2 separate regions of the Homo sapiens genome follow, and region 2 is linked to region 1. A link means that fine-mapping ties the variant in region 1 to the expression of a gene that starts in the linked region. Tissue or cell type: monocytes after LPS. Region 1 holds a variant in brackets; the other region holds the start of a gene. All regions are shown on one strand. Distances are between the middles of the regions.

Region 1 (5,259 bases):
GCAGAGGTGTGCTTTTCAAGACTCACCAAATACTGTGTTTTCTCTCTTAGGATTTCTTTTCCCCTAAAGTATCACGGAAGATACTATGGTTCGTGACTTTCTTGCTAACTGAAGAAGCCAAGGATTTGGGGTGTGGGGTCGTATGCGAGACACAGTGGGGTAAGGGTGCATACCCCACCCCTTACCTGCTCTCATACTGCAGTTACATTTACACCAAAACCCCATGCAGGGTTCTTTGTGGTGAGTGTTCCATACGTGCTAAGGACCTTAGTTACAGATTGTTACTTTCTGGTGACCTATGTTGAATTGAAACCCCCAAAACTTGAAATTGTGAACATTTGACATGCAGTAAAGGCCACCTCATCACCCAGAGAAATCTTTGGCTGCTGCAGCTAGCCGCTTCTTGGCTGTGATGTAGTATAGCTTCGATCTCATTTTGTGTTTGAGAGAATGTTCTGGGCAAGTTCTGTGTGTGGTGGGTTGGGGCGGGTAGAGTCATGAGTTTTCCACATCCCTGTGTGGTGGTTTTGCTGACTGTCGCTCCGTGGGACTGGCTCCCGTTTCTCCTTGGTGAGCCCGGGGAGCCGGCGCATCTTGTGAGTCGCGTCTGTGCATGGCGATCCGCTCCTCCGGCTCTCATGGCATTGTGCCACAGGCAGAGGCCAGGAGGAGCAGTATGTGCACAGCCGAAACATTTTACATTTTTTACATTGTTTTTCTTTTTTAACCAACTCATTGTTTAAAAAACAAAAACAAAAAAAACCTAATCTGTGAAATCAGCGTAGCATGCCTGGAGCATCAGGAATGGCAGAAAAGTCTGATGCGCTCTAGACAGCTTCACCACTCATTTGGGCAGGCAGTAAACACACATATAATTTATTAGCTGGGAGCTGAACTGGCTGTGAAATCTATGATTTGCTTTGAACATTTGGGTTTTGTTGCCTTTTTCTTAATTGATAACACAGAAAAGAAAGTACCATCAAAGACTGTGGAGTCATTGAGGGTCTGTGTGTCCTCACCGAGAGGGACCTGGTGTGCCCGCCGGGTCGATCTTCCCACGTGTTAGGGTTTATTTTTATACAACACATTTTTTGACACTTTAAGGTGGGTGGGTGTGTGTGTGTGTGTGTGTGTGCGCGCGTGCGCGCGCGCATGTGTAAGGTTTTATGTTGCTGTTATTTATTTACGAACTTCAGATACGTTTTTATGTATTTTTCATTCTTCTGGAGCTTCCTAAAAATTGATAAGCATCTGCACTGAAATATAATTTAACAGCAAAAGTAAAAAAGGATTGAAAGTTGTAAATTCCTCATATCACTACAGTGACGATTATTCTAGAAATCGTTGCTTGTGTAGCAAAGACCAAATAAATAGATTTCAGACACAACCTTGAGCACAGTTGATTTTGGACAGCTGCTGTTTATTAGGAAAGGGCTCCAGGTGGCAAAGGTGCACACTTCCTCAGACACAGGTGAGAAGATGCAGCACCTTCCACAGGTGAATGGGACGGATTCGAAGTGAGCAAAGGGATTCACAAATTATGTATTTATTTGTTTTCATAGTTAAGTAGCTGAAGCTCAGAGGCTTTCAGCAACAGAGATGAAAGTGTGGCTTTTTAGTTTTGTGAATGGATGATCACAAAGAAAAAGCATTTTTAAAAAGTTGGCAAACGCTGAAACGCACTGTGGTATGAAGCGCATTGCATTTCCATAGCACTGAAGTACCAGTTTCCATTCCTGGGCTGAGATTGTTTTTCCCGTGGTTGTATTGTTCTGATTTCACGTACACCAGAGTAACTGATTTTTTTTTGTTTGTTTTCTTGTGGAGTTAACACCAAATAAAAATTGTAAAAAACAGTTTGTTGTTTTTATTTCTCATAGCAAAGCTTCTTTTGTAAAGAACTCCAGCTTCCTTTTACTCATGAGCATCCGTGGAAGAGCAAGTGCCCAGGTTACATTTGTTCTAGATGGAGGTCATTTAGCTCTCATTGCAGACACTGCTGAAAACATTGTGCAGCTTTGCTAGGGAAGAAAGTGGTGTGGCCTGCTGAGAAATCAGCGGCTCCTCCCCATCTCACCCCCAGCACACGCAGGGACTACTACCTGAGTCTGCAAAACACATAGCATTTTTGTCCGTGGATGGTACACAAAGCTCAATCTTTTTGTTTTCTTCTGGGGAAAAAATTAAATCTTTATATGTTAATATGATTGATATTCATTGTGCAAAAAAAATCAGTGTGTTTTTAAAGAAGTATAAGGGAAAAGGAAAACTCATATGTCCTTCTGTCACTCTGAGACATACACTGGTAACATCTGTGCAAGCCCCTTTCCAGGATTCTGAATGTACAGTATATATGAATGCATACACAGAGAAATTTACATTCAAGAGTGTACTATACTTGTTCTTCTATAACATCAGAAATAGGTTTTTACTCAGATGTCTTCATGTCGGTAATTATAGAACTACATAATTATTTTTATAGCTGTATTATGTAGATTTAACAGGTTCCTCATTGATAAAACAATGTTTTTTTGGTTGTTTATTCAGTATCTGAATAACGTTTCTATGGACATC[T/C]GTAAACATGTATGAGGGGACTTTTAAAAGTTCATGGAAAATGGAATTAAAAGAAAAATAAAAAAATATAAACTTTATTTCTCAACATAAGTTCCATCAAGTTCAAGATACTACTATAAGACATAATACCAACCATTCAGTCTATCCCTAAAGAACTGAGGCTCCTGGAAATTTCACCTTGTCAGTGTAGTCTCTGCATTGTGAACTGAAGAGAAATGGGTGCCCTTTACAGCTTTTTAAGATTAGGAAACAAAAAGTCAGAAGAAGCCCAATCAGGACTGCAAAGTGGATGCCTGATGATTTCCCATCAAAACTCTTGGAAAATGGCTCTCGTTTGCTGAGAGGAATGAGCAGGAGGAGCACTGTCATGGTGGAAAAGGGCTCTGGTGAAACTTTCCTAGGCATTGTTCTGCCACAGCTTTGGCTAACTTTCTCAAAACACTCGTCATAAGCAGATGTTAACATTCTTTGGGCATCTGGAAAGTCAGCACATACACAGTGCTTTGAGCATCCCAGAAAATGGTTGCCTGGCCTCTGCTTTTGACCAGTCTGCATTTGCTATGAGGAGACCCCTCCCACCTCTCGGTAGCCAGTGCTGTGATCACAATCACATTGTCTTCAGGATTGTGCTGGTAAAGCCATGTTCCATCTCCTGTTACAGTTCTCAGAGGAAATGCTTTAGGATGTTGATTCCTCTTGTTGAAAGTTTCCCCTGAAAGCTCTGCTGCTGTCTCCAGCTGATCTGAGTGCAGTGGTTTGGTAGCCATTGAGTGGCAAGTTTGCTCAACGTTAATTTTTCAGTCAGATCGTGTAAGCTGAACCATCTGAGGTGTCTGTGGTGTTGGGTGTTGTTTCTGCTGTTAATCATTGGTCCTCTTTGATTCAGGCATGAATAAGATTAATTTTTTCCTCACAAATTGATGAGGAGGTCTTCACCATTGTCTCATCCCTTCTTAAAACAAGTTACCCATTGGCAAACCTCTGATTTTGGCTGGGGGCGGGGCATTGTCCCCATAAGCTTTTTTGTAAAAAAATCATTGATTTTGGGCCAGGTGTGGTGGCTCACGCTTGTATTCCTAGCACTTTGGGAGGCTGAGGTGGGTGGATCACGAGGTCAGGAGATCGAGACCATCCTGGCCAACATGGTGAAACCCTGTCTTTATTAAAAATACAAAAAAATTAGCCAGGCGTGGTGGCATGTGCCTGTAGTCCCAGCTACTCAGGAGGCTGAGGCAAGAGAATTGCTTGAACCTGAGAGGCGGAAGCTGCAGTGAGCCGAGATCACGCCACTGCACTCCAGCCTGGGCAACAGAGCGAGACTCTGTCTCAGGAAAAAAAAAAAAAAAAATCACTGATCTCACCATTCTTCCACCCAAGCATCACCATAAATTTGATGTCCTTGCTTCCATTTTTAGCAGAATTCATGTTGCTCTGATAGGTGCTCTTTTCAAACAGTCATACCCTTCTTAGTGCCTCAAAGTAGATCTTAAGACATGTTATAACAAGTTAGTACAAGTTTATTTTGGTGCAAAAAATTTTTGAAATCTGTGCATAGCTCCTTTTTGGAGACAGTCTCACTGTGTCACCTAGGCTGGAGTGCAGTGGCATGATCACTGTCATCTCAAACTCCTGGGCCTAGTGATCCTCCTGCCTCAGCCTCCCTAATAGCTGGGACTATAAGCACACCTCACCATGCCCAGCTCATTTTTTAATTTTTTGTAGGAACAGGGTTGCCCAGGCTGGTCTCAATTACTTGGCCTCAATCCATCCTCCTCACCTCAGCCTCCCAAAGTGCTGGGATTACAGGCCTGAGCCATTGCACCTGGCAATAGCACAGGCCCTAAAGGATGTAGTTGGCCCACCCCCCAACACCATTTTTAAAGTCCTTACCCCACCGATTTGCAGGAGTGCAGTGATGTCATCTCGGTTCACTGCAGCCTCCACCTCCCGGAGCTCAGGCAGTCCTCCCCTCTCGGGCCAGGAATTCTGACACCACAGCTAAGTATTTTTAGAACAGCCCGGGGTGGAGTGTAAAGGCTTCTGCCTTTTTCACTGAAAGTGCTCTGGCCACTGCCCTGTGTGCCTGCTGCTGCTGCCACTACAGATGCCACTCTGGCCATGAGTGGCTGTGGCAGTGCCCAGGAGGCCTGCATCTACCAGCAGTCCAGGAACAGAAAGGAAGCCCCTGCCCCTGGTTCCTCTTGAAAGCAGCCAGTCGGATGGCGTCACAAGCTGGCCACTGTTGTGAACGCAGAGATTAGGAAATGAGCTGTCGTTTCAGAGCCCGCTGCTAGCCTTGTGCCACTGGTGTGGTTAATTAATAGCATGTTCAGGGACGGTTGCCTCAATTATCAAGCTGGTAATGATGCTGCCACCTAACGTTTGGTTGGCGTTGCTATTGTCTGTGCTAGTCATAGTCAACAGCTGACACTGAGGGCTTACTGGCTGCCACGCATTCTAAGCGCTCTTGAGTGTTAACTAGCAACCCTATGAGGGAGCTACAGCTGCTCTGTTTTACAGATGAGTAAACTGAGGCACAATGGGGCATTAGGCACTTGCAGTCTCACACTTGGTGGATGCTGGAGCCCGAATTCACCTTGGGCACTGACTGCAGAGTCCATTTAACACTGAAACCTCCATCTCACAAAATCCCACTCATTAAGTTACGTATTGTCTCTGGGCACG
Region 2 (5,000 bases), 100 kb before region 1:
CAAATCCTATTAATACAAGATAATTCCTACTTAAAAACCTCTTCTTCCAAGAAGTCTTCAGGTTCTACTAGTTCATGGTAGAACTAGTATAAAAACTGGTCTGTGGCAAAGTAATAAAAAAAAAGGTCAATAAACTCTGTGTGTGTGTGTGTGTGTGTGTGTGTCACTATACAGGTGCCAACCGTGTTTCCTTTCTTCAGAACTGAGATATACTGTTATTACTTTTCAAAAAATTTTGCTGTTAATACTCTTTTGTAAAATATGATGTAGATGACAGATATGTCACCAATGTAGCAAAAATCAAAAGCTGACCATCCTTTGCAAATCCCCCATACTTTGGTCTGTGAAATCCTGGAGCCTGGAGGCACCTGTGAACTAGGCTCTGAAGCTCTGCTACTCTCCCCTCCTCTACTCCCAAGTGGCCCTGGATTTCCCATACCCTTTCCATTCTCGACACTGTTTTTAGAGTTTGAGTTCCAGGAGCACAGGGACTGTGCGTTCCCGGCACTGAGCCAGGTCCACAACAAGCACTCAGAAGAAACTGACTGAATGAACGTGTGATTTATGACGATATACATTCACCTGAGCGAATGCTCAGAGAATACAATTAGAAGCAAACTGGTTAAGGGAGACAGTAGTGTAAAGGAAACGAAACCCCATATTTCAGAGCCAGGAGCCTGGGTTCACATTCTGTCTCCTGCAAGAGGTGGTTTAGCAAGGTCAGAAGGCCCTGTCCACTCGGTAGCAGCCAGGCTTGGGTGAAATCACTTTCTTTCAGCCTCAGCTTCCTCACCAGTTAAATGCGGATGACAAAGATTTGTCCCACGATTTTTGTAAAGAACAAAAAGATATGTTCGCAGAAAAAACACTCTGTAGATAGTACGTAAGCGACAGTTCCTCGGTTTGTCCTTCCATGGATGCATGGAGCATCTAGCCAACTCAGCAGATGACCCCTCTCCAGTGTTTCAGCATCTGCTTCTCCCACAAGCCCGTGAGCTGGTGCAGGAAATTCTCCAACAGGTTCTGAACAGAAAAGCATAGTGCCTGGCACCTAGTGGGTGCTGCATAAATGAACAAATGACCCCAGGTAAGTCACTCCTCCCATTGGACCTCTTTCTTCTAAGTAATCTCCCTTCCTTTTCCAGGTCCATGATACTTATTTGCTTTTTTAGAACAGGCCTAGGAGTCACATTTAGGGAAGGTAGGTGGCTGTGAAGACACTTTGATTAAAAGGTTAATGCACATTTTTGGTTTCCACTTTCGAAGCTTCCAGAATTTATTTTTGCCTAGTTAATAAAAAAAGAGCCATGTCACATTTCTTTAGCTTGTCTTCTGGGTTCCTTAACAACAACAACAAAAAATTAAAGTCTTTATTTTAAGCCGCCTACTCCAGCCATCCCAGGACGCGGCGAGGAGGGGGCGCGGACAGGTGGCGCGCGAGCCCGGGAAGGCGGGGGCTGCACCGGGCCGCGGGCGGGGCCGTGCACGCCGAGCCCCACTTCCCCAGCGCGGGCCGGGGGCGGGGCGCGGCGGCAGAGTTCGGGGGCTTCTGCCGAGGGCAGTCCCACGTGCCCCTCCGCGGGAGACGTCTCCTCTCCGACGCCCAGCACGCTGGGGGGCTCCCGCTTCCTGCCTGCCCTCTCTACTGCTTGCCCTCTCACCTCCCAGCGGCTTCCGCCGCCCCGGCCAAGCTGCACGGCGCGTCCCGGGCCCTAGACCCCCACCCGCCAGGCACCAGCCCCGGCCTGTCCCCTCGCGCCGTCAGCCCGCGGCCCACCGCCCGCGCGCGCCCGCAGCCCAGCCGGAGGGAGGGGCAGGGGCGGGGACCGGCCGGCGCTGATGTAATCCCGGCACCCGGGCGGAAGGATATGGAGCGCGCCCCTGGTTGGCGGGGCGCTGAGGCCAGTTGCCGGGTAACGGAGCGGAGCGGCTCCCGGCGCGCCGCCTCCCGCCCTCCGCGGAGTGGCGCTGGGGCCGCCGCCGCCGCTTTACGTAAGGCGCAGGCCAGGGCCGCCCGGCGCTCGGCAGCCGCCCGCAGCCCCTCGGAGCCAGAGGAGAGGCGCCCCCGCCGGCCGCCGCGCCGCCCGGCAGCCTCGGCAGGTACTGCGGGCAGGCGGCGGGGAGGGAGGGCGCGGAGCAGCCCCTCGGCCGGGTGGGCGCGGGCCGGGGAGGCCGGACGCTCGCCGCCGTGGGGCTCCGGGGCCAGCCCGAGGGAGGCCGGGCCGCAGCCGAAGGCTTCGGGGTCAGCCCAAGGGAGACAGGGCCGCCGCCGTGGGCTCTGGGGCCAGCCTAAGGGAGGCCGAGCCGCCGCCGAGGGCTCCGGGGCCAGCCTGAGGGAGACCGGGCCGCCGCCGGGGGCTCCGGGGCCAGCCTGAGGGAGGCCGGGCCGCCGCTGATGGCTCCGGGGCCAGCCTAAGGGAGACCGGGCCGCTGTTGATGGCTCCGGGGCCAGCCGAGGGAGGCCTGACCGGCCCCGATCCTGGTGGTGCCCGGGCGTGCGGGTGAGCTGTGGGCCCTGGGACCCCCGCCCCGACCCCAGGACGCCGGGACACCAGCTTGCGGCTCTTGCGCCCGGGTGGGCTGTGGACGATGAGTCCGCACAATGGGTTGCCGTTGGCTGCCTCCTGCCTGGGGCAGGTGTCGCCGCGCCGGGGCGGCTCTTCTAGGGGAGACGAGGCGGGGGTGCTTAGACTTGATAGGACGTAGAGCCCCGAAAGTGGGCGCGGGAGGAAGGCTTCGGCCGGTGGGAGGCGCCCGGCGTCCCCGGCAGCGGGGTCAGGCCGGCAGCCTGGGCCGCTCGCTCGCGTTCCCTCCGTTCCCCTCCCCTCCAGCATTGTCCTTTTGGGGCCCCGGGAAGGGAAAACCGCCGGGCGGGGGAGGAGGGCCGCAGGCGGGCGGGGCCGGGAGGCCGGCTGAGCGACTGGCGCGCCGGCCTATGGCGCGGGGCGCGGCGCGGGGGGCGGGCCTGGCGGGCGGGGCCGGTGCGGCGCAAGGTTTGGCGAAGGTTACAGCTGGAGCTAGGAGTGACAGGCCCACAGTCATCCGTGCGCTGCGCGGCAAACCCTGTCGCGAGGGCGCCCCGAGTTGCTGCGGGGCCTGATCCGGCTCCTTTCCAACAATACGCGTCTGCAGCCGGCATTTCTAGAGCTCTCTGCTTCTTCCCGCTGGAGAAACCAGTGTGTGTCGTGTTGGAATGCTTCGTCTTGCCCTAGAATTCAGCTTGCGTCTTGTGGTGCGCAGGTGACAGGACCTGCCGAACTCTTGGTACAGACCCCTAAATCATGGCAGAACTGTCTTGATTTCTTTTTTGCCACCTTTCCGTTTTTGTCCTCTATAGGCAAGCTATAAAGATTTAACCCAGTTAAAAACAGGAGGGAGATTCAGCGGAGAGGAGGCATGCGAGATTCTTTGGAAAAAATTATATAAATGTAGTTCTTGCTAATAATTACCTGGGTTGGATACTTTGACTTACTGTTCAAGTTCCTAAGAAGGGATTTTACATTTCTGGGTCTTGTTTTAAAAACTGTTAGAAAGCTCGTGAGGGGGTAGGGACAAGCAGTTTTGGTAATAGGCGATGCTGTGGATAAAACTGTGCGGTAAAATGCCCAAGCTAGATTCTTCCTATGCAAAATAAGACCCGTTCCAGAACACTTTGACCATTTCGTGGACTTAGAATTTAAAGGCGGGTGAGGGCGGGGGGGGAGGAGGAGCGGATTCTATCACTCTGCATCCTCAAGGTCAAATATTCTTCCATCAGTTATTTTGGATTGAACCATTCTTAAATAGGTCTCAGGATCTCTATGTCGCTTCCTTATGACAGAACCTATTTCCGAGAGTGTGCCTTTGCATATCTATAGAAGCTCCTTTCACTTAATATATCTTATAACTCAGATTCAATTGCTGTACTTGCTAAATAATGCATTTTTAATCATTCAAAAAGTGGTTTACAGCTTCCTTGGGTATAATGGTTTTTATGTAAGCCCGTTACATCAGTGAAATGCCAGTTTTTAAACATTGAAGGGAAGGGAGAATATTATTCTTATTTATTTCCATAGGAAGTAGAATTCAAAGTGCAGGTGCTTTTTTGTTTGCTTTGGAGAAAAAGTATAGGTCTTTAACATGACGTTAACAGAAGTCAAATCTAAGGATAATTAGCTTGTTATGCAAGTTGCAAACATTTAAGAAGATCAGATGAATTTTTTTTTTTTTTTTTTTTGAGACGGAGTCTCGCTCTGCCGCCCAGGCTGGAGTCCGCGATCTCGGCTCACTCACTGCAACCTCCGCCCGCCGGGTACAAGCGAGTCTCCTGCCTCAACCTCCCGAGTAGCTGGGACTACAGGTGCATGCCACCACCCCCGGCTAATTTTTTGCATTTTTAGTAGAGATGGGGCTTCACCGTGTTAGCCAGGATGGTCTTTCTCTCCTGACCTCGTGATCCGCCTGCCTCAGCCTCCCAAAGTGCTGGGATTACAGGCGTGAGCCACCGCGCCTGGCTGATTAGATGGATTTTTAACACTTCCAGTGGTAATATAGGGTAATGTAGCTAGCCTACTCTGTGCTATGTTGTACGGTAGCACTCTTCAAAAGAAATTAGATTGTTCTTGTTCTTTATTTTTCATTGTGTGGAAAAGTGCTGAGCCTGCGCTTTGTCCTTGTTTTTGTAGCATTTGACTTGGCAGTTAATGGCTTGTGAGCTAATTTCCTCATCTGTAGAATGGGAAGATTGATGACACCTGTTTCACAGAATAGTTGGGATGATCACTTGAGGGAAGACGTGAAATGTCGTCAAGACTCAAACCCTTTAAAAATACTCGCCTAGTGTAAGTGTTAAAACCTCAGATTACTTGCTTTGCTTAAAGTTTTTAACTTTGTCTTCAGGCTCCTCGCCACCCCTTCCTATCCATTCTTTGCCTGGCTGCCAGAGTCATCTTTCCTGAGCTCAGATCTTGTCAGTCTCTGGCTCAGTAGGCTTCTAAGACTGCCTGTGGTTTGGAGCTTAG

Which allele goes with the higher level. Alleles are on the strand shown, and positions count from the first base shown. SD is a standard deviation of normalised expression in the study named.
As copies of T replace C in region 1, the expression in monocytes after LPS of the gene that starts at base 1,986 in region 2 goes up (large effect, 0.76 SD a copy in Fairfax 2014).

Evidence for each region. PIP is the estimated chance that this variant, and not a neighbour inherited with it, causes the effect.
Region 2: KIAA0232 starts here. The variant in region 1 is fine-mapped to the expression of KIAA0232 in monocytes after LPS (Fairfax 2014, PIP 0.95). The same link has a PIP of 0.9 or more in monocytes.

The regions. Positions count from the first base shown.
Region 1 is chr4:6,881,514-6,886,772 of GRCh38, forward strand. It overlaps KIAA0232, which reads left to right. Exons shown (of 10, transcript NM_014743.3): 10 at 1-2,651. Among named protein-coding and RNA genes, the nearest start is that of TBC1D14, 26 kb to the right of the region's middle. The variant T/C (reference allele first, on the strand shown) is at 2,575.
Region 2 is chr4:6,780,742-6,785,741 of GRCh38, forward strand. KIAA0232 reads left to right here and starts at 1,986. Exons shown (of 10, transcript NM_014743.3): 1 at 1,986-2,100. RefSeq lists silencers at 1,366-2,245, 2,306-3,075.